Regions from separate parts of the Homo sapiens genome. Here regions 2, 3, 4, 5 and 6 are each reported to be linked to region 1. Evidence: microRNA targets listed by miRTarBase, many of them from high-throughput screens and not tested one by one. Region 1 holds a microRNA gene; each other region holds the end of a gene's coding sequence.
What was found. The annotated mature microRNA hsa-miR-455-3p reads GCAGUCCAUGGGCAUAUACAC and lies in region 1 at 1,623-1,643, opposite strand. An mRNA with a match to its seed (bases 2 to 7 or 8) in the 3' UTR can be bound and repressed. Matches are read on the target gene's strand: a 7mer-m8 pairs with bases 2 to 8, a 7mer-A1 pairs with bases 2 to 7 and ends in A, and an 8mer does both.

Region 1 (4,101 bases):
GGGAGAAGCAGAAGATGCCAGGCAGCAGGTGGCCAGGGCAGCGTGGCCGTGGGAGGTGGGGTTCCCCGCTAGAGTCTGCGTAATAGACACGGAAAATCTTTACCGGCATACCCATCTTGCCCCTCTTGCCAGGAACGCCAGGCAGGCCCTGCAGGGGAGAGACAGGGGAGAGGTCAGGGCAGGATGCCAGCAGGGACAGCCAGGCTTGCCCCAAACCAGCCCAGAGCCACCCACGGCAGGAAGTCACAGAGGGCCTGGAATGTGTGCCACTTGCGTGGCGGCCCCAGTGACATGCACATCAGACGGATGGCAGGGTCGGGGTCTGTGGTGACCTAAGAGACAGAGAAATGCCAGTTCCTGTAATCAGCAGGTGCTTCATAAATGCTCAGGCTCCAGCTGTCCTAAGGTTCTCTATACCCAGCTTATGGAGGTTACAAGTGAGTTCCCATAGATACGGGCTCAGGTTGGGAGGGGGCGGGGAGGAAGATCCCGAGGCCACCACCCCAGGGGCTTCTAATGGACCTCCAGGCTGGGCCAGGGGTCTGTGAGAAGCTCCCACACCATCTTTTGGACTCCTCTGACTTAGATACTTGGTCTGGAAGGACAGGGTGTCTTAGGAAATCTTAGCACCCACTGCCCACCACCAAACCAGTCCCACCACCTTCCCCAGACAGCCGCTCCCCCTGGCTGCTGGAACTCCTGCCACCTGCTCTTGCTGTCCCCACCCCCAACCAACACATTTTACTCAAGTAAACCAACTGATCTGTCTAAAAGAGGAATCAGCAGATGGTTTCTGGAAAGGGGCAGATAGTGAATATCTTTGGCTCTGTGGGCCATACGGTCTCTGTCACACCTACTCAACTCTGCCATTGTAGTGAGAAAGCGGCATTGACAATATGTAACCAAATGAGCAAGGCTGAGTTCAATAAAACTGTTTGCAAAAACAGACAACTGGCTGGATTTGGCCCATGGGCCACCGTTTGCAGACCCCTGATCTATATTATAAAGTGGGCCCGGTGTTCATTGGTTGCAAGTCCTCAAGAGGCTCCGCATACCCTCAGAACAGAGTTCCTTTTCTAACCTTAGTCCTGGGCACCTAAGACATTGCCCCAGGGTCCTCTCCAGCCTCAACTCCCACCACTCTCACCCTCTCACGCAGCACTTTGGCAGTGTTGAGTGTTAAACTCGCCAAGTTACCGTAAATCCCTGACTTCGCACATGCTGTTCCCTATGCCTGGAATGCATCTGCCTTGACTTGTCCCCTTATCAGACTCCTACTCGACTCAAGTGCACCTCCTCCAGGAGGAATTCCTTGACTTCCCCAGGCTGGTGCCTGGCAGGTTCTGCTCTGTTTGGGCAGGGGTGGCTGTGGATGGTGAATAACCAAAGAAGCAAACTTACTCGTTCTCCATCAGACCCTGGCAGGCCGAAGAGCCCTGGGAGCCCAATGTAGCCCTAGGAAAGAGAAGAAAGGGGGTCAGAGCGGTCAAGCAGTGAGGTGTGGCTGGCCCAACCTGCCGCAGCCCACCCACCACTGCCATCCCACATCCCGGCTCCTCCTCTTCCTCCCTGGTGGCAGTGGCAGCTCCGGTGGCTCCTCGATGACATAGGCCTTGAGGCAAGTGTATATGCCCATGGACTGCATGGTGCTGGCTTCCACGATGTAGTCCAAAGGCACATACCCTCACGCCAGGGAAGGGCGCAGGCGCTCGCCGGCAGGAGGCCCGCCCCACGCCAGGGCTCCAGGACCTGCAGAAGGAAGCTCGCGGCTGGGTTAGATGCTAGCACGGCACCAAGCCCTGCCCACCCCCAGGGATGCTGGTAGGTGCCCGTGGCTCCTGCCATGGCTCCTCCTAGGCCTTCAAGGTCCTGGATGTAGGGCTTACATCCACCTCTGGCCGCCTGAGTGCTGGCATTAACTAACAGCGGCTGCGAACCCGGAGTGCCAACATTGTGCCAGGCACATGCATGCTACCACATTAGACTCTCACAAGGACCCCCCAGATTGTCACCACCCACACTGGACAGACAAAGAAACTGAGGCTCTGTAGATAAAGCAACACGACTAGTCAGTAGTGGAGCTGTGAATTCTCTTCGGGAATTCCTAATCAGTTCAAGGGTCACCCAGGGCCAGCTGACTCCACAGCTGGGGCTCGTCACCATTCTGGGGCTCTTCCCTAGGATGCATCTCATTTCCTCCCTCCCAGCCTTTCCTCACTCTGTCCCCTCCACCAGGCATGTCCTTCCCATCCCTCATGACTTCTGAGCCAAATCCTTCAAAGCCCAGCTCTCATAAGCGCTCTCCTTGGGCAAGCATCCCTGATACCCCAAGCCGGAAGCAATCTCTCCCCCCCATCCCCAGTGCCATTTTTGCACCTCGGTAGCATCCTTCTCCACTTTCTCCCTTGTATCTTCATTATTTGTGTTCATGCTTCACGTCCTCATTAGCCTGGGAACTTCTAAAGGGCAGTAACCTCGCCCGGGGCTTCTACCACTATCTGCGTGCCACTCTTGGTGGAATGATTTAATAATAACTCTAACAAAAGCTAATGTTTATTGAGCACGAATGATAGGCCAGGCCTGCTGCCAGTGCTTTGCATATATTAAAGCATTTATTCCATCCTTATCACACCCCGAGGAAGTATTATATTTTATTATTTTTTTATTTATATATATTTTTTGAGACGGAGTCTTGCTCTGTCATCCAGGCTGGAGTGCAGTGGTGCGATCGTGGCTTACTGCAACCTCTGCTTACCGGGTTCAAGCGATTCTCCTGCCTCAGTCTCCTGAATAGCTGATCACAGGTGATCACAGGTGTGCACCACCACGCCCAGCTAATTTTTGTAGTTACTTTAGTAGAGACGGGGTTTCGCTATGTTGACCAGGCTGGTCTCGAACTCCTGGCCTCAGGTGATCCACCCGCCTTGGCCTCCCAAAATGCTGGGATTACAGGCACGAGCCACCGCGCCCAGCCCTGAGGAAGTATTATTACTCAGCCCCCTGTAGAGGTAAGACCATTTAGGCCCAGAGGGGTGAAGCAACTTGCCTAGGACCAAACAGCTGAAATGTGGTAGAACTGGTATTCAAATTCAAGTCTTCTGACTCCTGGGCCTGGGCTCCTAACCACTCTGCATACTGCCTCTCCTCAAACAAGCAACCAATGGAGGCTCACAACCATCTCTCCTTCCCTGGAAGGCCAAGAAGCCACTGAGCCTCCTCGTTGGCATCCAGCATGATTAATATCCATAATCTGAAAGAGTGCCATTTACTGCCATTCCAAATAGTGCTTATCTCCCAGATTTACAGGTGAGAAAATAATTGGCTCAGAGAGGCCCAGTGACTTGCCCAAGCTCCCACAGCTAGCTAATGGCAGGGCAGGTCTCAAAGCCTGTCATCCTGATTCCAAAGCCTGCCCTCTGCCTACTTCAGAAATATGAGGCTGGTGGTGGCAGGGTTGGAAGGGCAGCTTGAGTGACTCACTGCTCATCCAGGCTTCCCACCCAGGGCTGTGTGGCCTGTAAGAGACAGGAGTGCTGGGGCCAGACCAGTCCTCTCCTGCTATGTGACTTTGAGATGCCACCAGCCTGGCAGGCAAGTCGAGCAACCCCAGATGTCATTAACATGCCTGTCCTTCTGGCAGGTCAGGAGATCAGGACTGGGGCTGGACTGAGAAGACCTTTCTCCTTGGGTTTAGGGGGTCCCTCTGGGGGAATGGCCCATGGGAGCAGCAGAATAAAGGAAGAGAGGCACAGCACCCTGGGACAAGAGCCTCCTTAGGCCCTGCCTGTCACAGTAACCTCCTGGGGAATGCACCTCCCCGCCCCCACTCCCGCCTCCCCACACTCTCCTAACAGCCACCAGTCAGCTGCAGGGATTAGGGCTGAGACTGCAACTGTTCTGTCCTCTCCCTCCTGCCAAAATATAAATAGCTTTGGCTCAGGAGCAAAGGATACGTGATCTGTCCTGACCGAGGACTGTGTGACCCCCTTCCTGAGCATTCCTTGAGAGGCAGCAAGTCCAGGCCTCGGAAGACTTGGGTCCCCATCCCAGATCCGCCTTAGGCGTGCAGTGTAAGCTGGGGCCATCCAGGCCCCGCCATGA
Region 2 (4,000 bases), not on the chromosome of region 1:
ATGAATGCATGCATGCCTATTGAAGAACTAAAATGTTACTTGTAAAGTTCATTTTGAAAGAAACCAGATTAAGTTACTCAATGGAATATCGGCTTATCTTTTCCTTCCAGGAAATAAATGTGACCTCTGGGAAAAGCGGCACGTCCTGTTCGAGGATGCCTGCACACTGGCTGAGAAGTACGGCCTCCTGGCCGTTTTGGAGACATCTGCCAAGGAGTCAAAGAACATAGAAGAAGTCTTCGTGCTCATGGCCAAGGAGCTGATCGCGCGCAACAGCCTGCACCTATATGGGGAGAGTGCCCTGAACGGCCTCCCCCTGGACTCCAGCCCCGTTCTTATGGCCCAGGGTCCAAGTGAAAAGACCCACTGCACTTGCTAAGATGTTTGCAAAGCCAGTTGCACCCACCAAAGAGGCCGCCTCTGAAACCAAAGGTAGCCAGGATACCGTAGTGTTGCCCCAGTGGCGCTTTAGACCCCAGCGTGGACTTGCCGCTCACCCCTAATCCTCCCAGTCTGGATGGGCCACACTTCTCCCTTGACTCACACCACAGGTCATAGCTGCTGACTCTCAGGAAAACCAGCACCATTGTTTTCACTGACTCTTGACTCCTGGAGAAGGCAGGACTTCAGGCTAGGAGAGGGAGGACGAAGTGTACTCTTCTCCCCTTTCACTTTTCTGTCTCCCTAGAGCTTCTGCTGCTTTCTACTGAATTTTGTTTCTTGCTTGAAGAAGAGGGTAGTGAAGGAAAGGAGGAAGGCAAAACAGCAAGAGAGAGAAGAGGCTGTTTGGAACATTCTGGAACAGTTTGAAACAGCTCAGGCAGGGAGAATGGAACGAAAGCCTGCAATGAGAAACCAGAATGCTGCTATCATTTTGTTCCTGACATTCACACCTCAGGTCTTCACTTTGGGGAGCGAAGCCTTTTAGCAGAAATACCAGAAGTACCATCTTGCCAAATGGTCAGGAACTGTCTGATAGAGATGGAACTGGAATTCACTCTATTCTAGCAGGGCTGACTTGGCCACCCTCTTGGGATAGGGGAAGACACCTGCAATTTTTTTTCTTTCTTTTTTTTTTTTTTTTTTTTGAGACAGGGTCATACTCTGTCACCCAAGCTGGAGTATAGTGGTGGGATCTTGGCTCACTGCAACCTCTACCTCCTGGGTTCAAGAGGTTCTCCCACCTCAGTCTCCCAAGTGGCTGGGACTACAGACACACGCCACCACTCCTGGCTAATTTTTGTATTTTTTGTAGAGACAAGGTTTCACCATGTTGCTCAGGCTGATCTTGAACTCCTGAGCTCAGGTGATCTGCCCACCTTGGCTTCCCAAAGTGCTGGGATTACAGGCATGAGCCACCATGCCTGTTCTTTTTTTTTTTTTTTTTTTTTGAGACTGAGTCTCACTCTGTCACTCAGGCTGGAATGCAGTGGCATGATCTCGGCTCACTGCAACCTCAACCTCCACCTCCTGGGTTCAAGCAATTCTCCTGCCTCAGCCTCCCAAGTAGCTGGGACTACTGGCACTCACTACCACGCCCAGCTCATTTTTTTTGTATATTTAGTAGAGACTGGGTTTCACTACGTTGGTCAGGCTGGTCTTGAACTCCTGACCTCATGATCCACCCGTCTCGGCCTCCTAAAGTGCTGGGATTACAGGCATGAGCCACCATGCCCGGCCCTTTTTTTTTTTTTTTTGAGACAGAGTTTCGCTCTTGTTGCCCAGGCTGGAGTGCAATGGTGTGACCTCGGCTCACTGCAACTTCTGCCTTCCAGATTCAAGTGATTCTCCTGCCTCAACCTCCCTAGTAGCTGGGATTACAGCCTCCCGCCACCACGCCTAGCTAATTTTTGTGTTTTTAGTAGAGGCAGGGTTTCACCACGTTGGCCAGGCTGGTCTCGAACTCCTGACCTCATGATCCACCTGTCTCGTGGCCTCCCAAAGTGCTGGGATTACAGGTGTGAACCACCGCACCTGGCCTTTTTTTATTATTATTATTGTAGAAATGAAGTCTTGCTACGTTGCCCAGGCTGGTCTCCAATTCCTGAGCTCACAGGTTTCTCCCACCTCAGCCTCCCAAAGTGCTGGGATTACAGGCATGAGCCACCATGCCTGGCACAATTTCTTTCTAGAACCCAAATCATCTGCCAGATCAGAAGTCATTTTTAAATTAAAATTAAATTGGTTCATAGATGAATATCAAGCCAGTGTTGTACTGCCCCTTCTGTAAGATATGGCCAGAGAGCAGCTGGTGCCTTCTGGGATGGAGTAACTGCGGCTTTCAGAACTAAACACGTAAGAGGAGGCTGGAAGTCACCAGGCACCCCTCGTTTCCAGGACTGTGTTAGGGGACATCAGGGCAGGCAGCAGGAGCAGGCCACGGAGCCCCTCCAGGGTCCCAGGGAACTGTGGACACTCACCTGGGGCTTCCGGAGGACAAACACCACTTATGATTGCAGCTGACATTTACTGAGCTGCTTCTCATGGCCAGAAGTTGTGTGAGGTCTGGGGAAAGCAAATGGTCCCTTTGGTTTGTGATGCCAGTGGAGGGGAAAAGAGGTACCAGCCGCATTCTGCTGCTCCTCTTTTTTTTTGAGACGGAGTCTCGCTCTGTCACCCAGGCTGGAGTGCAATGGTGTGATCTTGGCTCACTGCAACCTCCACCTCCCAGGTTCAAGTGATTCTCCTGCCTCAGCCTCCCGAGTAGCTGGGATTACGGGGGTATACCACCACACCTGGATAATTTTTGTATTTTTAGTAGAGACAGGGTTTCACCATGTTGGTCAGGCTGGTCTTGAACTCCTGACCTCAGGTGATCCACCTGCCTCAGCCTCCCAAAGTGCTGGAATTACAGGCTTGAGCCACTGCACCTGGCCTGCTGCTCCTCTTAACACCCTTGGACTTCCTGGCATCCTCTCATCCAGCAGTAGCTCTCAGTTCCCCCTTTCCCTGCGCCACATTTTTTTTTTTTTTTTTTGAGGCAGCGTCTCACTCTGTTGCCCAAGTTAGAGTGCAGTGGTGTCATCTCAGCTCACTGCAACCTCCACCTCCCAGGTTCAAGCGATTCTCCTGCCTCAGCCTCCTGAGTAGCTGGGACTACAGGCGCATGCCACCACACCCAGCTAATTTTCTGTATTTTTAATAGAGACGGGGTTTCACCGTGTTAGCCAGGATGGTCTCGATCTCCTGACTTTGTGATCCTCCCCCCTTGGCTTCCCAAAGTGCTGGGATTACAGGCGTGAGCCACCGTGCCCAGCCCTTTTTTTTTTTTTGAGACAGAGTTTCGTTCTTGTTGCCCAGGCTGGAGTGCAATGGTGCGATCGTGGCTCACCACAACCTCCACCTCCTGGGTTCAAGCGATTCTCCTGCCTCAGTCTCCTGAGTAGCTGGGATTACAGGCATGTGCCAACACGCCTGGCCAATTTTGTATTTTTAGTAGAGACAGGGTTTCTCCATGTTGGTCAGGCTGGTCCCGAACTCCCGACCTCAGGTGATCCGCCCGCCTCGGCCTCCCAAAGTGCTGGGATTACAGGTGTGAGCCACCGCGCCCAGCCCCCTGCTCCACTCTTAGCATCTGGGTATCAGGGCCCCAATCACAGCCTATCTGCCTTTCAGTGAGAGGAAGGCAGTCTTTAGGGCTCTTTCCCTGGACTGGTCTTCTCCTTGGCCTTAAGTTATTCTCCTGCTCCTTTATACATTTCTTGGTCTGCAAGGAGTCCTTAGGTAGGAGCCAGAATTTAAATTCTGACCTTCGGAATATATCCATAAACTAAGCCAACCACAGAGAAGAAGAGCAAAGCTAGGAGACCTACGAAGCACAAGCCTCCTCCCGGTTCTCCACCATCATCAGGAAGCACTCTTAATTTTTCTCAGTTAAGGTGCCTTTTAGAAATTTCTTGTCTTGCGACAGAGTTTTCATTCTTTGTTGATTAGTCTATTCTTGAGGAATGGATCCATCAATCTGTTCAGTGTGTGTCCCAGAGCCGACTCAGGGCGGGCA
Region 3 (4,105 bases), not on the chromosome of region 1:
CACTGTCCCTTCAAAGAAGTAAGTACTTAGGGAGGAGAGAGCGTTACCCCTGTGGCTAAAGAGATGGGGTTTGGAGAGAAGGGTCTTTGCATTCTCCTTCTGCAGATCTGCATGTCTCTGGATTTGTAAGCCAGTGTGACCTATCAGGAATCACTTATCTTCCGGGAGCCTCAGTTATCCATCTACGAAATGGGAGACTTGAACTTAGATGTGATCTTCAGGGCCCTTTATCCATAATAATCCATGCTCTACAGTGCTATGGCCGTCTCTCATCTTGTGCGGCTGTTTTGAGAATGGGAAGAGGGGTGGTAGTTCATGGCTGCAATCCTAGCAGTGGCTCTAGGAGAAAGACCCCATCAGTAGGCTCCCACTGACTGGCGGTCCACTGGCTTTCCCGCAGGGAACCTACTCACTGCCCAAGAGCGAATTCGTTGTGCCTGACCTGGAGCTGCCCAGTTGGCTCACCACCGGGAACTACCGCATAGAGAGCGTCCTGAGCAGCAGTGGGAAGCGTCTGGGCTGCATCAAGATCGCTGCCTCTCTAAAGGGCATATAACATGGCATCTGCCACAGCAGAATGGAGCGGTGTGAGGAAGGTCCCTTTTCCTCTGTTTTGTGTTTGCCAAGGCCAAACTCCCACTCTCTGCCCCCCTTTAATCCCCTTTCTACAGTGAGTCCACTACCCTCACTGAAAATCATTTTGTACCACTTACATTTTAGGCTGGGGCAAGCAGCCCTGACCTAAGGGAGAATGAGTTGGACAGTTCTTGATAGCCCAGGGCATCTGCTGGGCTGACCACGTTACTCATCCCCGTTAACATTCTCTCTAAAGAGCCTCGTTCATTTCCAAAGCAGTTAAGGAATGGGAACCAGAGTGTTTTAGGACCTGAAGAATCTTTATGACTCTCTCTCTTTCACTCTTTTTTTTTTTTGTCACTAAGTTAAAAGCGAAGTGAGAGTATTAACGTTTTTGTTCTCCTCCGGCCCCCTGTTACAATGAAGGGGCAAAAGTATTTGCTCTTAGTCTATTCCTCCCTTAACTTCTGTGACTAATTTTTATTTCCTTTCTAGATTTGCCCAATTAATACTAGGGTGCAGTGTATCCTGGAGAGGTAGGGTGTGTGGGGGAGGAATCCCTTGGGGGAGATATTAGGAGTGCTCTGTTGTTTACAAACTCAGGTACCCGCAGGGCCTAGCAAGAGACTTAAATGACTGATAAGAACCGTGAGAAACATGTTGCTTCCAGGCTTGATTTCGATTTTTCGCTTTTTTTTTTTTTGAGACAGAATCTCACTTTGTCACCAGGCTGGAGTGCAGTGGTGCAATCTCACCTCACTGCAACCTCCGCCTCCTGGGTTCAAGCAATTCTCCTGCCTCAGCCTCCCAAGTAGCTTGGACTACAGGCCCTGCCACCACGCCCGGCTAATTTGTGTATTTTTAGTAGAGATGGGGTTTCACCATGTTGGCCAGGATGGTCTCGATCTCTTGACCTCGTGATCTGTCCACCTTGGCCTTGCAAAGCGCTGGATTACAGGCATGAGCCACTACACCCAGCCGATTTTTCCTTTTTGATTAAAGATGCTATTACAATGTAAATATTTCTTACACAGAAAGTCACAGCACATGTGCCCATTGATACAAGGCTGCTGAGGCCTGGTCTCCAGTTGGAAATATAATTAAGGGTGGCAAGGACTGGAGTCAGTTGGAGAGTGCATAGCCAGTCTGTGAAGACAACTGCCAGATACTGGCAATACTCCAGCCTGGTGACAGAGTGAGACTCTGTCTCAAAAAAAAAGTTTCAATGTTTACTCCTAGAGAAGCCAAAAATCCAGATTTGTATATGAAATCTTACCATTTTAAAAGATTGGCAGCTAATTATTTTTTTAAAAAGCTGTGCAGTGTGATGTGTCCCAAACGGACTGGCTCATGGGTGGCCACGTCACAACCTCTGATCTCAGACCGTGCATGCCTTGTCCTCTTAAGACAACTCCTGTGGCACCGTTTCTCCCTCCACAGGGCCAAAGCCATAGTGTCCGGTCCCAAGGACAAGGCTCTTCCAGTGCTAGGAGAGGTATGAGCAGCCTCTCACCTGTGAGCTGTGGGGATCACAAGGCTGCCTGCCTCAGTCTTGGAGTCCTGTTGGGTGAATGAGGCAGATGGGAAAGAGCCTCACCAGCAGCTGCTTTTGGAGCAGGGGTCCAAGGAAGAGAGGGTGGCCTCGACATCAAACTGCCTGGATTTTTCTACCACCCTGTTACATCATAACAACTTCTGAAACACACACCAGCCCTGAGTTCTGGGCTCATTTGAAGCCTGGAATAGCAATAAATCTTTTTAACTTGCGGACAGTTTCCCCTTGCCTTGGCTGCATATTTCACTGATCACATCTCAGGATTTCAAAAGCATTTTTGGGGTGGGGCTCTTTTGGTTGGAAGGGTTTGTTGGAACGGTACAGGTGAGCCGAGGTGATTCCAGGGACGGACCCTTCTGCAGGAGCTTGAGCTTGCTTGTTGTCTCTGCTTCATCGCCATCCAGCTCCCTTGTTTGCTATTTTGCTTTCCATCACATCATGACTGCGGAGAGCAAAAATCACCTAGTGACCATTGAACAGGTCCCAGAGACAAAATCTTTTTATCTGAGGAATTTAAAAGGGAGCAAAGACCACCTGGTGACTATCAGGCCATGCAGAGGCAAAACGCCTTATTTGGGGAAAATTAAAAGTAATTAGACTTTCCTATTATCTAAAGCAGGCATCTGGTTCCAGATTTCTTTTCCCCGAAAAAAACCTTAGAAGTAACTAAAATTTCTGTACATCTCCGGAATGCCATGCTGAAACTCACTGCAACCCCACGGTCCCGCTTTAAGGTCCATAAATATCCCTAAGGAAAAATCCACCGTGGTACATTCAGTCCTCTCACCGAGGTGCCCCATGGCAGTCTTCTGCAGCATTCTTCTAATACCTTTCCTTTTTCAAACCTATACTGTTGTTGGTGAATTCTTTTTACCAACCCACGAGTTGACCACTTCCCAATGCCGGGGATCTGACACCTCACCTGGCAATGACCTCCACAGCCGTTTCCCTCTGTTGGATCTTCCAGCCTTATTCTCAACAGTTCATTTTTAGTTCACATTCTTGACCGAATCTCAGTAGCTCAGTTAATCTTTTTATGTCTGCTCTGCTCTTGGGTCATATGTTCCGTGAGGTTTCTTAGGGGTGGGGGATGAGGAGTTAAAGGTGGCATCTTCAATCGCAGGTCAAAGCAGACTTTAATAAATGGTGCTGAGCCAACTGGAAAGCCCCTTGGAGAAAGTTGAAGTTAGACCTGTACTTCACACCATATGCAAGAATGAACTCCATCTGGATCCAGGATCCAAATGTAAGAAAATGAAGCCATATAAATACAGAAGGAAACGTGGTGGAAATATCCAGTGGCAACAAAATATTGACACATTTGACTACATGAAGATAATAAAAATGCTTAGTAAAAACACAATAAAATCAAATGACTGGGAGAAAAATTTATCCAGCCTATATAATAGACAAACAGTTAGTGTTCTTACTATATAAGGAATTAAAAATTAAGGGACAAAGGACCAAAAACTTGATAGAAAAACTGGGAAAAGACATGAACATACTCACGTAAAGATATAAAAATGGCTCTTTAAAATGAAATATTCAAACTAACTCATTAGAGAAATGTAAATTGAGATAATACTGAGATACCATTTATCATCTCTAAGACTGGTGAAAGAAAGAACAACACATTTCTGTTAGGCAAGGCTATAGGGAAACACACTGTCATCACTGTTGGTAGGAATGCAAACTGGTATGACTTCTGGAGGGGAATTTGTCAGTACTTAACAAATTGCAGAAGCATTTACCCTTTGACACAACCATTTCCACTGTGGGAATTTCCCTTGAAGATGCACCTCCAACAGTACAAACATACAGATGCACAAGATTACTCATTGCAGCACTGAGACTGCAAATATTGGAAGCAAAGTCATGTTCATATACACGAGAAAGCCTGAGTAAACCATGGCACCAATGGCATACCCACATGATGGAATATTATTGAGCTATAAAAAAAATGAGGAAGATCTC
Region 4 (4,105 bases), not on the chromosome of region 1:
GCTCCATGTGATACTCTCCTTCCTCCTTCTCTAGTCTTATCTCAAGCCACATTCCCTCCTATTTGATCATCATTCCAGAGGTTTCACTTTCGTGATTCAAAAAACATGAGGCGGCAACAGAAATACATTCACATACTTTACAAATGAGTTAAACAAGAGTATGTAGCTGCACTATTTATATTCGCCCAAATCGTAAGATGACCATCAAATGTAGGATGGATAAATGAATTATGGTACTCATGCAATGAACATTACCTGCCAGTGGCCAGGCGCTGTGGCTCACACCTGTAATCCTAGCACTTTGGGAGGCAGAGATGGGCGGATTGCCAGAGCTCAGGAGTTTGAGACCAGCCTGGGCAACGTGGTGAAACCCCGTTTCTACTAATAATACAAAAAATTAGCTGAGTGTGGTAGTGCACACCTGTAATCTCAGCTACTCGGGAGGCTGAGGCAGGAGAATCACTTGAACCCAGGAGGCGGAGGTTGCAGTGAGCTGAGATTGTGACATTGCACAATCTAACACCCACAGCCTGGGTGACAGAGCGAGACTCTGTCTCAAAAAAAAAAAAAAAAGAAAAGAAAATTACCTGCAAGTGAGAAGGAGCAAAATACATGTGCAACAATGTAATGTGATCTGTGTAATAATGTGATTTCCCTTAGGATGTGGCTGATGAAGAAATTGCTGCCCTCCCCCGGGATAGCTGTCCTGTTAGAATCAGAAATCGGTGTGTTATGACGTCCCGTCCGCGTGGTGTGAAGCGGCGCTGGAGGCTTAGTCGTATAGTCTTCCGTCACTTAGCTGACCATGGGCAACTTTCTGGGATCCAGCGAGCGACATGGTAAATGAGCTCCAGAACCTATTGAGCTTGCAGGGAAGCCAAGCTTGCAGTTCCAGCAAGCAAAGATTTTTTTTAATAGACCAAACCCTAATCTCTACAGGGGCCCAGTACAGTTGTTTGGCCTACCTGATGCTATCTCTAAACTACTTTTAAAATGAAGACATTTGGGTGTTTCATGTCAGTGAATTATCTTTTCTCTTGGACTTAACAAACATACTGTTCCCATACATAGTACAAAGAGTAGCATAATAAATATTTTCTGTGAATGTTTTTTATACCCTCCTTTTAAGTTTAATCTTTTAGTAACATATAGGGGTTTTTGTATTAAGAGCATTATTTCATAAAATGCTATCTTATACATAATCCAACTAATTGACATGTAGCTCATGTATGGCAGTTTGTAATCCTGGACTAGCTTTGCTGACCTGCAGAGCTCCCCTTAACTATTATTGTTAGATAAACAGATTGGATAGCAAGGCTGCTGTTCTGGATTATCTAATGCTCCACTTCTTCTTGTGATGGCTGAACAAAAGAACCACTAAGTGTTTTCTTGTCCATCCTTAAGGGACTTTAAAACAAATTATGCCTCTTTAAGTCCTTGAAAGTCTCCATCTAAAGAGGAAAAGTTTGTTGGAACAGTATATATTCCCTATTTTTATGTTTATTTAATCCATAACAGAAATGAGTAAGGGTAGCACAAAGTTCTCATTCAGTAACTCAACAGTGTGATCATCAGCCCAGTGATAAAAATATACATACTGAATGGAAGTACCTACTTAACATCAGGAAAATATTCCTGGAGAACTTAATAAATCAGGAGGTGAGGGGTGAGATTTTTTTCTGCACACAGAGGGAACAAAAGCACAAAGAAGCAAAGGCACTCTGTAGCATCAGAGAACCACAGTCACTTCAGTAGATCAGAAATATGAAGCACAAGACAAGGCCCGTATTGTGGAGGATCTCACAAATCATGTGAAGGAATTAAGACTGACATACCAGGTATTACAGAGTTTTAAGCACAGGAATGACATCATCAGTTTGTAATACAGGTAAGTGACAGCTGTGTGGCAGATGGCCATGAGAGGAAAAAGCTACAGGCAAGACAACCAGTTAGGAGGATGTCTTAGTTGTTGAGGAAGATGAAGGCCTGAACTAACATTGTGGTATTAGTAGAGGAGAGAGGACAGATTTTTAAAGTTTTAGGAAAGAAAATTGGGCAAGACTTACAAGACTGATTATATCTAAGAGGTAAAGATGGTTCTCTGGGTTCCTGATAAAAGTGTCTAGATAGATGGTAGAGGGCAATTCCAAGAGGGCAACTCCAAGATAGAAAATTTGGAAAAAGAACAAATTTAGGGGAAACAGAAGATAAGCGAGTTCAGGTTCCAGTCATGCGGTGTTGGAGATGCCTGTGTCATCTGATGAAGACTAGTACGCAGCTGGATAGCAGAGTCCGAAACTCAGGTGGAGGTGAAGTTATGAGGGAATTATCACAATCTAGTTTGGATTCATATTTCTTAAATATGTATGACAACTTACCAACTGGAATGTTCTAGCTAATATCTCAACTTAGAATCCATCTCACTACCAATGGGCAAACACTTGTGTTCTAAAGTTACTTGCAAGTAGTTTATACTGCCAACTTGATATATATACATGCTATAGTTTGAACATTTTGTGTACTTCCAAAATTCACATTAAAATCTAATCCACAATGCGTTGGTATTATTAAGAGGTGGGGCCCTTAGGGGTGATTAGGCCAGGAGGGCTCCACACTCATGGATGGGATCAGTGCCTTTCTAAGAGGGCTTGAGGGAGAGAGTTTGTCCCTTTTACCCTTCTGATACTGCGAGAAGGCACCGTACTGGAAGCAGAAAGCAAGCCCTTACCAAACACCAATCTGCTGGTGCCAAATCTTAGACTTCTCCAGCCTCCAGAAGTGCAAGAAGTAAATATTATTTATAAATTCTTAGTCTATGGCATTTTGTTACAGCAGCAGGAATAGACTAAGACAATGTGTTGATAGGTTTAGGGTCATGTTTTACTTTTTCAGTCATGTTAAATTTTAGATGGTTCTAAAGTCAAAACTCTAGAAAAAGTTAAATTCACAGAATAGCTTCCATCCTCATCTCCTTCCTTCCCCTGCTAACAATTTTTATTAGCTTTGGGTTTACTCGTTTCTTTTTGAAACATAAGCAAATACACCTATGTGCATACATTCACATTTCTCACCCTTTCTTACACAAATGTAGTGGGTATACCATAAATGTTCTGCACTTTGCTTTTCCACTTACTCTATCCTGGAGACCATTTTACGTTATATAGAACTCTTCATTGTTTTGTGACTTAAGTACTCCCTCATGTGGATGCACCATAATACATTCCTGTTAAATAGACACGAGTATTTTTAATCTTTTGCATATAGCATTCCAAATTTTTCTAAATGTACCTTTCAGAGCCCAGAAAGAAGTTAAAATTCTGGGTCAAAGGATAAATGAATATGTCATTCTGATGGTTATTACCAAATACTCTTTCTGAGACAAGAGTCTTACTCTGTCACCCAGGCTGGAGTGCAGTGGCACAATCTCAGCTCACTGCAACCTCTGCCTCCCGGGTTCCAGTGATTCTCGTCCCTCGGCTTCCCAGGTTCAAGTGATTCTTGTCCTTCAGTCTCCCGAGTAGCTGGAGTTACAGGCATCTGCCACCATGCCCAGCTAGTTTTTTTTATTTTCAGTAGAGACAGGGTTTCACCATGTTGGCCAGATGGTCTTGAACTCCTGACCTCAAGTGATCCGCCCACCTTGGCCTCCCAAGGTGTTGGGATTACAGGTGTGAGCCACTGCACCTGCCCAAATATTCTTGTTAACCAAAGTTTAACTTTTGCATTCCATTCCCATATATGTGTCCTTATTTCTCCACAGCCTCAACTCAATACAGTTGTTTTTATACTTCTTTTTCAAGTGAAAGGTAAAAACACTGGTTTATTCTCTTCTGAACAAGGTGAGCATCTTTACATGTTAAAGGTCATTTACATTTCTTTTTGTATGAAGTATTCTTAATTATTGGAATCCTGTCAATACATTGTTTGCCTTGGGTTATGGTGGGGTTTTTCTTGTCCTATAAACATTTTTATGTAGTTAAAATTGATCAATAGTTTTATTTATTTCTTCTAGGTTTTAAGTCACATATAATGTCGTTTTCCTCCATTTTCTTCTAGTATTTGTATGCTTTACTTTTTACAATTAGATCGTCAGGCGGCTTGGAAT
Region 5 (4,084 bases), not on the chromosome of region 1:
GCTAGGACTACTATTTTTTGTAGAGATGAGGTCTGGCTATGTTGTCTCAAACTCCTGGCCTCAAGCGATCCTTCCACTCCTGCCTCCCCAAACACTGGTATTACAGCCATGAGTCACTGCACTTAGCTTCGCCTTTTTTTTTTAGAGCACTTTTAGGTTCACAGCAAAATTGAGGGGAAAATACAGAGTTCCCGTATATTCCCTTCCTCCATACACTCACAGCTTCCCCCATAATAAACACTTCACACCAGAGGTCTACAGGTGTTACATCTGAGGAACCTACACTGACTCATCATATTTGCCCAAAGTCTACACTTTCAGTTGTCTTGGTGTTGCACATTCTATAGGTTTTGACAAATGTATATGTACCCACCATTATGGTGTCATACAGAACTTTGGGTGATTGTAACAAATGTACCACTCTGGGGGAGATTGAGTATGTGGGGACAGGAGGTATATGGCAACTCTGTACCTCCTGCTCAATTCTGCTGTGAATCTGAAACTGTCTAAAAGTCATCCAAAAAAAAAAAAACAAAAACCCAAAACTTCCACATTCAAAACTTATCTGACTTGTTCAACTTTTAGAGAAAAAAGACAACCCTTCGTGGTTATTTTTTTTGTGTGTGACAGAGTCTAGCTGTCGCCCAGGCTGGAGTGCAGTGGCACGATCTCAGCTCACTGCAACCTCATCCTCCCGGGTTCAATTGATTTTCCTGTCTCAGCCTCCTGAGTAGCTGGGACTACAGGCGGGTGCCACCATGTCCGGCTGATTTTTTGTATTTTTAGTAGAGACGGAGTTTCACTGTGTTAGCCAGGATGGTCTCGGATCTCCTGACCTCATGATCCGCCTGCCTTGGCCTCCCAAAGTGCTAGGACTACAGGCGTGAGCTACTACACCCGGCTGGGCCTTCATGGTTATTAAATGTAAATACAACGGGGCCAAGCTCAGTGGCTCATACCTGTAATCCCAGCACTTTGGGAGGCCAAGGCAAGCAGATCATTTGAGTCCAGGAGTTCAAGACCAGCCTGAGCAACATAGTGAAACCCCGTCTCGACCAGAAAATACAAAAATTAGCCAGGTAGTCCCTGCTACAGGGCTGAGGTGGGAGGATTGCTTGAGCCTGGGAGGTCGCGGCTGCAGTGGGCCAAGATGGCACCATTGCACTCCAGCCTGGGTGACAGAGCAACACCCTGTATACCGTATACAACTGCTTAGATATGTACATGATTAGTGACAAGAGGGATCCTCCCTTGGTAATAGAAAATTTGGGCTAGGCATGCTGCATCCCAAACTGATGAACCGAAACTGCTACAAATGGTCTCTACCAACACATTCCCACGGCTAAGTACGAAGAACAAGGGCGAATGGTCAGAATTAAGCTCAAACCTAGCTGAAGCACTCAACATTGATTCATTCCTTGGACCAATTACTTGCTAAATCTCTATGAACTGGTATCTTATTTGTACAATGAGGTTGCTATTTTAAAAATTAATGTTACCAGCTGGGCCCAGTGGCTCAGGCCTGTAAACCCAGCACTTTGGGAGCCCAAGGCAGGTGGATCGCTTCAGGTCAGTTCCAGACCAGCTTAGCCAACATGGTGAAACCCCGTCTCTACTAAAATACAAAAAAAATTTAGCTGGGTATGGTGGCAGGTGCCTGTAATCCCAGCTACTCAGGAGGCTGGGGCAGTAGAATCACTTGAACCCGGGAGGCGGAGGTTGCAGTGAGCCTGGATCGCATTACTATACTCCAGCCTGGGCAACAGAGCAGGACCCAGTCTCAAAGAAAAAAAAAAAAAAAAAGTACGTTACTTAAAAATGCCTGGGATATAGGAGTCCAAATAATGTTAGCAGTAAAATAAAACCAGTATTTTGTTTCCTTGAAAAAAATACATATACAAATCTCAACTAAGTCCAAAGTGTCAATAACATTTTGATGATGTAATTATTCAAACTTTTTGAGGTTTTCACTGTCACACATGCTGGAGTGCAGTGGCACGATCATAGCTCACTGAAGCCTCGAAGTCCTGGGCCCAAGGGACCCACCCTCCAGCCTCAGTCTCCCAAGTAGCTGGGTCTACAGGCACACATCCCCACACTCAGATACTTTTTTTTTTTTTTTTTGAGACAGAGTCTTGCTGTTGCCCAGGCTGGTCCGACCTCAAGCTATCCTCCCATCTTGGCCTCCCAAAATGTTAAGATGACAGGTATGAGCCACCATGCCTGGCCCAAAATTTTTCTATTTTTAAAAACTCACAGCACAAAAACTGTAGAAAAGAATATTTTATTGAAACAGTTTCTCAATTAACAATGGAGCAAAGTACAATTTGACTCAAACCTGTCCAACCAGCATCAACAGCTACTGAAAGAATTCAAACATACAGAAGAGGTGGGGGTGGGGTGAGGGGTGGGACCCTTAGGTCCCATCTCTGCCAATGTGGCAAAAAAAAAAAAAAAAGGAAAAGACAAAATGACTGACACAGCCAGGTTCATTCTTGTCTTGGAGCTGAGGCAGCAGCCCTAGCTCCTGCTACAGACGGAATACTGGAGGACGGGCTCCCTAGGCGTAGGTATGGTGGGTCGGGGGCCCCCAACCTAGCAGAGTGATGCACAGAGGAAGGCCAGCCCTGACCCTCCTCCTTCATCCACAGGCCTGCCTCAGAGAGAGGGAGGTGGCATCTCTACATTCACACCATGGTCTCTCCTTTCCCCAGGATCTTGGGATAGGGACTCACAGTAGAAAGCACATTTTGGTCAGCCCAGGGGGTCAGGGGGTGAGGGAAAGGCTCTGTCTGGGAGGAGCAGAACAGCAGAAGAGAGGAGGAGGCAGGGAGTTACAGGAACCTGGGGTACCAGGCTGCTGGGAAGATGCAGATTATGACAGAGCTTGCACGATGCTGGCACCCCATGCCAACCACTCTACGTGGCTTTCCTCTTCGGAGAGGTGGTGGGCTCCCTTCTTCACTGTGCCCCTCCCTCCTCTGGCCACTAGGGGTGGGAAATACGAGTGAGAATCCTTCCAGATTTACTTCCGCCAATCCAGAGGTACAGGCTTTTAGGCAAGGGGCAGAGAACTGCCCAATTTGCTGCAGGAAGCCAAGGAAACCCAGGGGGAAAGGAGCTGGATGGGAATGGGGAAGGGAGGCTCAGAGCAAGAGAAGCCCGCAGAGGGAGGAAAGAGCACAGATAGGCACTCAGAAACCAAACCTGGTAACTGAGGCTCTGCAGACACTGGCCTGAAAGGATGCTCATCGCATGGTGGGAGAGGAAGGGAGGGAAGGAACAATCACCAGAGAAGAGTGGAAACTCCCCAGCAACCTGATACCCTTCCCATCACCGGGACCCATCAGCCACTGGCAGCCATTCTCTTCCTACCCACAGGCAAAGGATTCAGAAATTAATAGTGATTTTTCCCAAATTTAGGGCCTATATGGGTAGGGAACAGGGAGTGGGGCTGGGGAGGAGAACAGTTTCCATTTTTAACCACAGAGGTACTGCAGAAGGAACCAGTGAGCTGTCCCTCCCTTCCCCTTCTCCACACCTCCAAATCACAGGGGTGAGAAAGGAACTCCAGCCGAGGGCAGGACCAACCCCTCCCCCAACCCTCGATGTTAAATAAATAGAAGTGGTGGGGGAAGGGGGTGGAGATGAATGGGGAAAACAGAGGTGGGGGTTATAGTTCGTCGTTCTTCAAAGGCCGCTTCTGTCCTGTCGATTGTTCTTTCTGTTCAGGTTCTGTTGGGAGTTTGGGGGAGCAAAGGAATCACCGCAGGTGAAACAGAGGAACCAACCCCAGTTCTTTGCAAAGGATTTCCTGAGACCCCACCAGGCTTCCCACCGTAGCCCCGGCTCCATCCTCACCTGCTCCAGGACCTCCTAACTCCAAAGGCTCAGTGTCTCCTGGCTCGGATCCTGCTTTGGGAAGAAACAGGTTAGTCTCCTCAGAAGGGAGGAAGAGGCTAAGGGAAGGCTGGGCCAGTTTTTCCATGAAGAGCCAGCTAGTAAATATTTTAGGATGCATGTACCACATTTGGTCTCTTTGCCTACTCTGTTTTTTGAGACAGAGTCTCTGTTGCCCAGGCTG
Region 6 (4,105 bases), not on the chromosome of region 1:
TCAAGTGATCCTCCCACCTTAGCCTCCCAAGTAGATAAGAGGAAGAGCCTTCCTCTTATCTTGTTGCTCTGCATGGTACCAATTCCCAAAGCTACTTCAGTATGGCTACTGAACTTCCAGCTGTCGTGTCTGCATTCCAAACAATAGGAAGCAAGAATGGATAAAGGGGAAAATGTACCCTTCTTGTAAGAACACTTGCAAATTGTATACATCATTTTCTCTACCATTGGCCACAATTTAATCATAACTGGGAGGGAAGCTGGGAGATGTCATCTTTATTTTCAGCAGCCACAACCCCAGCTAAAATACTGGAACATTCTATTTCTTTTTTTTTTTTTTGAGACACAGTCTCACTCTGTCGCCCAGGCTGGAGTGCAGTGGCGCAACGTCCGCTCACTGCAAGCTCCGCCTCCCGGGTTCACGCCATTCTCCTGCCTCAGCCTCCCGAGTAGCTGGGACTACAGGCGCCCGCCACCTCGCCTGGCTAATTTTTTTTGTACTTTTAGTAGAGACGGGGTTTCACTGTGTTAGCCAAGATGGTCTCGATCTCCTGACCTCATGATCTGCCCACCTCGGCCTCCCAAAGTGCTGGGATTACAGGTGTGAGCCACCACGCCCGGCCCTGGAACATTCTATTTCTTTCTTTCTTTTTCTTTTTTTTTTTTTTTTTGGGACAGACTCTGTTGCCCAGGCTGAAGTGCAGTGGCGTGATCTCGGCTCACTGCAACCTCCGCCTCCTGGGTTCAAGCGATTCTTCTGCCTCAGCCTCCCGAGAAGCTGGGATTATTGGCACACACCACCACACCCAGCTAATTTTTGTATTTTTAGTAGAGACGGGGTTCACCATGTTGGCCAGGCTGGTCTCAAACTCAGGTGATCTACCAGCCTTGGCCTCCCAAAGTGTTGGAATTACAGGCATGAGCCACCGCACCTGGCAGGAACATTGTATTTCTAGAGAGGAATCAACTATTGAAGAATTGGCACCTTCTCCCAAAGGAAGCGCTGGGGAAGTCAGTAGAACACAAAGAACTGGATGAAAGGGATGTAGTAGAATGGCATGAGCCTGCAACGGGCAGGGTTTTCTTTGAACTGGGTGAACAGTCTGGCAGTGGTACGAGGACCCCGACTCCCCAGCCTGGGGAAGATGAGATATGTGAGGTTGAGGTTTGAGAAGAAAAGCCACCACTTGGAGGGGCTGCAGAAGTGGCTCTCAGAGGATAGCTGGTTTTCCATGAAGGCAAGGAGGGAGCAGAGAGCTAGCCTGGAAGGTTCACCAGAGGGCCCTTGGGAGTGGGTGAGTGGGAATGGAGCTGGGTGGGGGTCAGCAAGGACAGGGTTATTTGGTTACTGGATGAAAACACGGATGAAAAGCCAGTGGACTTGGTCTTGATAGTGTCTGAGGAGGGTGGGTCTTACTTGGCCACTGCGACCCAAACCAGAAACTGCTCCCCCTTCAAAATCCACGAGTTTACTTATCACAGCCAACCAGGTTACCTCCCATGCCATCCTTTGACTTTTGCATCAAGCACTTAATAAACTTAATATCTAACCCTTGGTACCAGCCCCCAAATTGTATGTTCGATACTATAAATTTGAAAGACATACATATATCCTTTCCAAGGGTCAGGAAAGAACATTCAAATGTCAAAAATGATCCGGAGGAGTCCCATACTGCTCAGGGTAGGTCGCTTTGCAAAGCAATGAGAAAAATCTCTGAAATAGTTGTTTTCCCCATAGCCATCATTTAACATTGTTTCATTATTATCAGTTTTTTCTCAGGGTGGCTACTCTACCAGGAGCACACAGAAGTGCTCAGCGCCCCCACCCAGCTCTCCTAGCCCTCAGGGATCTGGGATTATAGTCTCCATTCTCAGGCAAACTCCTTTTATCAAGATGTTGAACATTCTAGGGAGCCAACTGACTTGAGGTGTACAACAGAACAGTCATGAGGAAGGGACCTCTATCCACAGTCCTGTGAGCAAAGGAAGCAACAGACAGCTGCCAGCACAAAGTCTCAACACACTGCCTCCAGGAAGTAAGACTGCAGGATGGCGGGAAGCAGATGTAGTATGGGTGCGCCCAGCCCCCCTCACCATCTGTGGACCCCAGGCAATGCAGTCAACCTTCATTCATCCTTTATTGAAAAGGCGGGGAGGGGCTATCAAGTCCTTTGCTGAATTTTAGTGAGAATTAATTCAGATACATACCAAATGCCTCACACATGCGTGGCTTGAGCTAAGTGTTATACACAGCTATTATTTTTAATTCTATTACACATAAACTCCCTGAGGCCGGTGACAGTGCTTTGCAATAATAACTAATCAACAACAGTCAATGCAGTAAGTGAAGAGTAGAATTCCAGCATACTAAAGGGTTAGGATCTAGGGATGAGAGCCCCAACCACCTCTATCAGAAACAGAGCTGCTGGGCCAGCTGTAGTGGCTCCCACCTGTAATCCCAGCACTTTGGGAGGCCGAGGCAGGCGAATCACTTGAGGTTAGGAGTTTGAGACCAGCCTGGGAGACATGGTGAAACCCTATCTCTACTAAAAATACAAAAATTAGCTGGGTGTGGTGGTGTGTGCCTGTACTCCCAGCTACTCGGGAGGCTGAGGCAGGAAAATTGCTTGAACCCAGGAGGCAGAGGTTGCAGTGGGCCGAGATCACGCCATTGTACTCCAGCCTGGGTGACAGAGTGAGACTGCCTCAAAAAAAAAAAAAAAAAGAGAGCTGCTAATTTAGAAGCAAATAACAGGAATGCTGGGTTCTGAGGCCAGCCCTAAGACAGCCAGAAACGCTGAGAAACTTCCACAAGCAACAATTCCTTACATTCAGTGCAGTGTAGCACTTCAAGAGAAATCCAGAAAGTTTCAGTTCCAGATGAGAACAATGAGGTGGTGAGGGGCTGATCTGCATACTATTGCTGAATTTGTCTGCACCCGCTAACCCCAATGATGAGAAAAGGGAGCGCAAAACATCCCTCAGAGCCAAGGAGGCAATTGCACACCGGTGATCACTGGGTGTTGTGAAGTGGGCAACAGAAGCCCCTGTTCGGACCTCAGGAGTCCTAACTTTTCCTTGTCGCTCTTTTCTCTGAACCACATGCTGTTTCCTGGGCTGAGAAAGGGCATGCCATGTTAGAGCAGAACTGAAAATAGACACAGCCACAGAAGGAACATCAGCAGGCAGATTATCGAGTCCGCTGAGATTTTGGCATTTTGGTCCTTGTCTGTCCAAGATATTTTTGGAAATAATATGGGGTGCTCCTGAAGGTCATGGGGGAGGGGGCAGGACCCACTTAGGTGAAAAGCCATGGGGCCCAGGTGAGCCCCTGTGGCCAGTCAGCAGCTCCCTTCCAGGGTCCAGTTTCGGGCATTGATAAAGAGCTGGAGCCAGGGGGAGGTGGTCAGAGTATCAAATGGAGGGGGTCGCCATGCCCACTGCCAAGGCCTAACGGCCCGCTCAGGGTGAGGCATGACAGCCAGGTGGCGGCCATCACAGGAGCAGATGCCAGCCACGCCCCCTGGGGACCCATTGGGATTCAGAGGGTACTGCTCTGTGGGGTTCCCGTCATCATCAGCCCAGTGCAGTGGAGCCAAGCCCCTGGCCTCAATCTGAGCTTGGAGTTCCGGAGAAGAAAATGCTACGTAACCTGGGATGGAAGGAGGAGGGAAGTGAGAGCCAAGGTCCTTCATGCCCACCCTTGCCCCCAACCCTCGGGCCCTCCCCCAGCCTTCCTTGGGCCTGACCTTCCCCGTGCGCACTCCACACGGGCAGCACGGCGCCCTCCATCCCTCGCAGCATCAGGGCTGGCCCAGGCCCCACACGCACGCTGGCCCAGCGAGACTCGTAGCGCCCAGACAGGTTGTGGCGTAGCAGAAGGCCTGGCCGGGCTGGCTGGGAGTCAGGGCCCATCTCTGCAGCATCCTCATTGGGGTCGCCTCCCACCCAGCCGAGCAGAGCCAGCAGTTGACAGCCATTACACACGCCCAGGCTGAAGGTGTCTGGCCGCTTCCGGAAGCGCCTCAGCTCAGCCCCAGCCCTGGGATGAAAGGTCACAGCAGCTGCCCACCCTAGCAGGGAATAGGGAAGTCAGGGTGAGACAT

Region 2: miRTarBase lists RAB19 as a target of hsa-miR-455-3p. The part of its 3' UTR that is shown has no 7-base or 8-base seed match.
Region 3: miRTarBase lists GM2A as a target of hsa-miR-455-3p. The part of its 3' UTR that is shown has no 7-base or 8-base seed match.
Region 4: the mRNA of MRPS14 is a reported target of hsa-miR-455-3p. The part of its 3' UTR that is shown has no 7-base or 8-base seed match.
Region 5: the mRNA of HYOU1 is a reported target of hsa-miR-455-3p. The part of its 3' UTR that is shown has no 7-base or 8-base seed match.
Region 6: miRTarBase lists PFAS as a target of hsa-miR-455-3p. The part of its 3' UTR that is shown has no 7-base or 8-base seed match.

Annotation. Positions count from the first base shown.
Region 1 is chr9:114,207,029-114,211,129 of GRCh38, reverse strand. It overlaps MIR455 (microRNA 455), which reads right to left and starts at 1,696; the gene lies at 1,601-1,696. COL27A1 (collagen type XXVII alpha 1 chain) reads right to left here. Exons shown (of 61, transcript NM_032888.4): 11 at 1,402-1,455; 12 at 104-148.
Region 2 is chr7:140,425,772-140,429,771 of GRCh38, forward strand. RAB19 (RAB19, member RAS oncogene family) reads left to right here. Exons shown (of 4, transcript NM_001008749.3): 4 at 111-2,203. The coding sequence ends at 379. Among named protein-coding and RNA genes, the nearest start is that of RAB19, 24 kb to the left of the region's middle.
Region 3 is chr5:151,266,896-151,271,000 of GRCh38, forward strand. GM2A (ganglioside GM2 activator) reads left to right here. Exons shown (of 4, transcript NM_000405.5): 3 at 1-18; 4 at 401-3,545. The coding sequence ends at 556. Among named protein-coding and RNA genes, the nearest start is that of GM2A, 16 kb to the left of the region's middle.
Region 4 is chr1:175,011,407-175,015,511 of GRCh38, reverse strand. MRPS14 (mitochondrial ribosomal protein S14) reads left to right here. Exons shown (of 3, transcript NM_022100.3): 3 at 661-2,554. The coding sequence ends at 843. CACYBP (calcyclin binding protein) reads right to left here. Exons shown (of 6, transcript NM_014412.3): 6 at 3,485-4,105. Among named protein-coding and RNA genes, the nearest start is that of MRPS14, 10 kb to the left of the region's middle. RefSeq lists a silencer at 2,653-2,853.
Region 5 is chr11:119,041,920-119,046,003 of GRCh38, forward strand. HYOU1 (hypoxia up-regulated 1) reads right to left here. Exons shown (of 26, transcript NM_006389.5): 25 at 3,862-3,912; 26 at 2,269-3,735. The coding sequence ends at 3,674. It overlaps HYOU1-AS1 (HYOU1 antisense RNA 1), which reads left to right and starts at 2,269. Exons shown (of 2, transcript NR_186315.1): 1 at 2,269-2,826; 2 at 3,466-3,574.
Region 6 is chr17:8,268,500-8,272,604 of GRCh38, reverse strand. It overlaps PFAS (phosphoribosylformylglycinamidine synthase), which reads right to left. Exons shown (of 28, transcript NM_012393.3): 27 at 3,749-4,072; 28 at 2,119-3,651. The coding sequence ends at 3,341. Among named protein-coding and RNA genes, the nearest start is that of RANGRF, 18 kb to the left of the region's middle.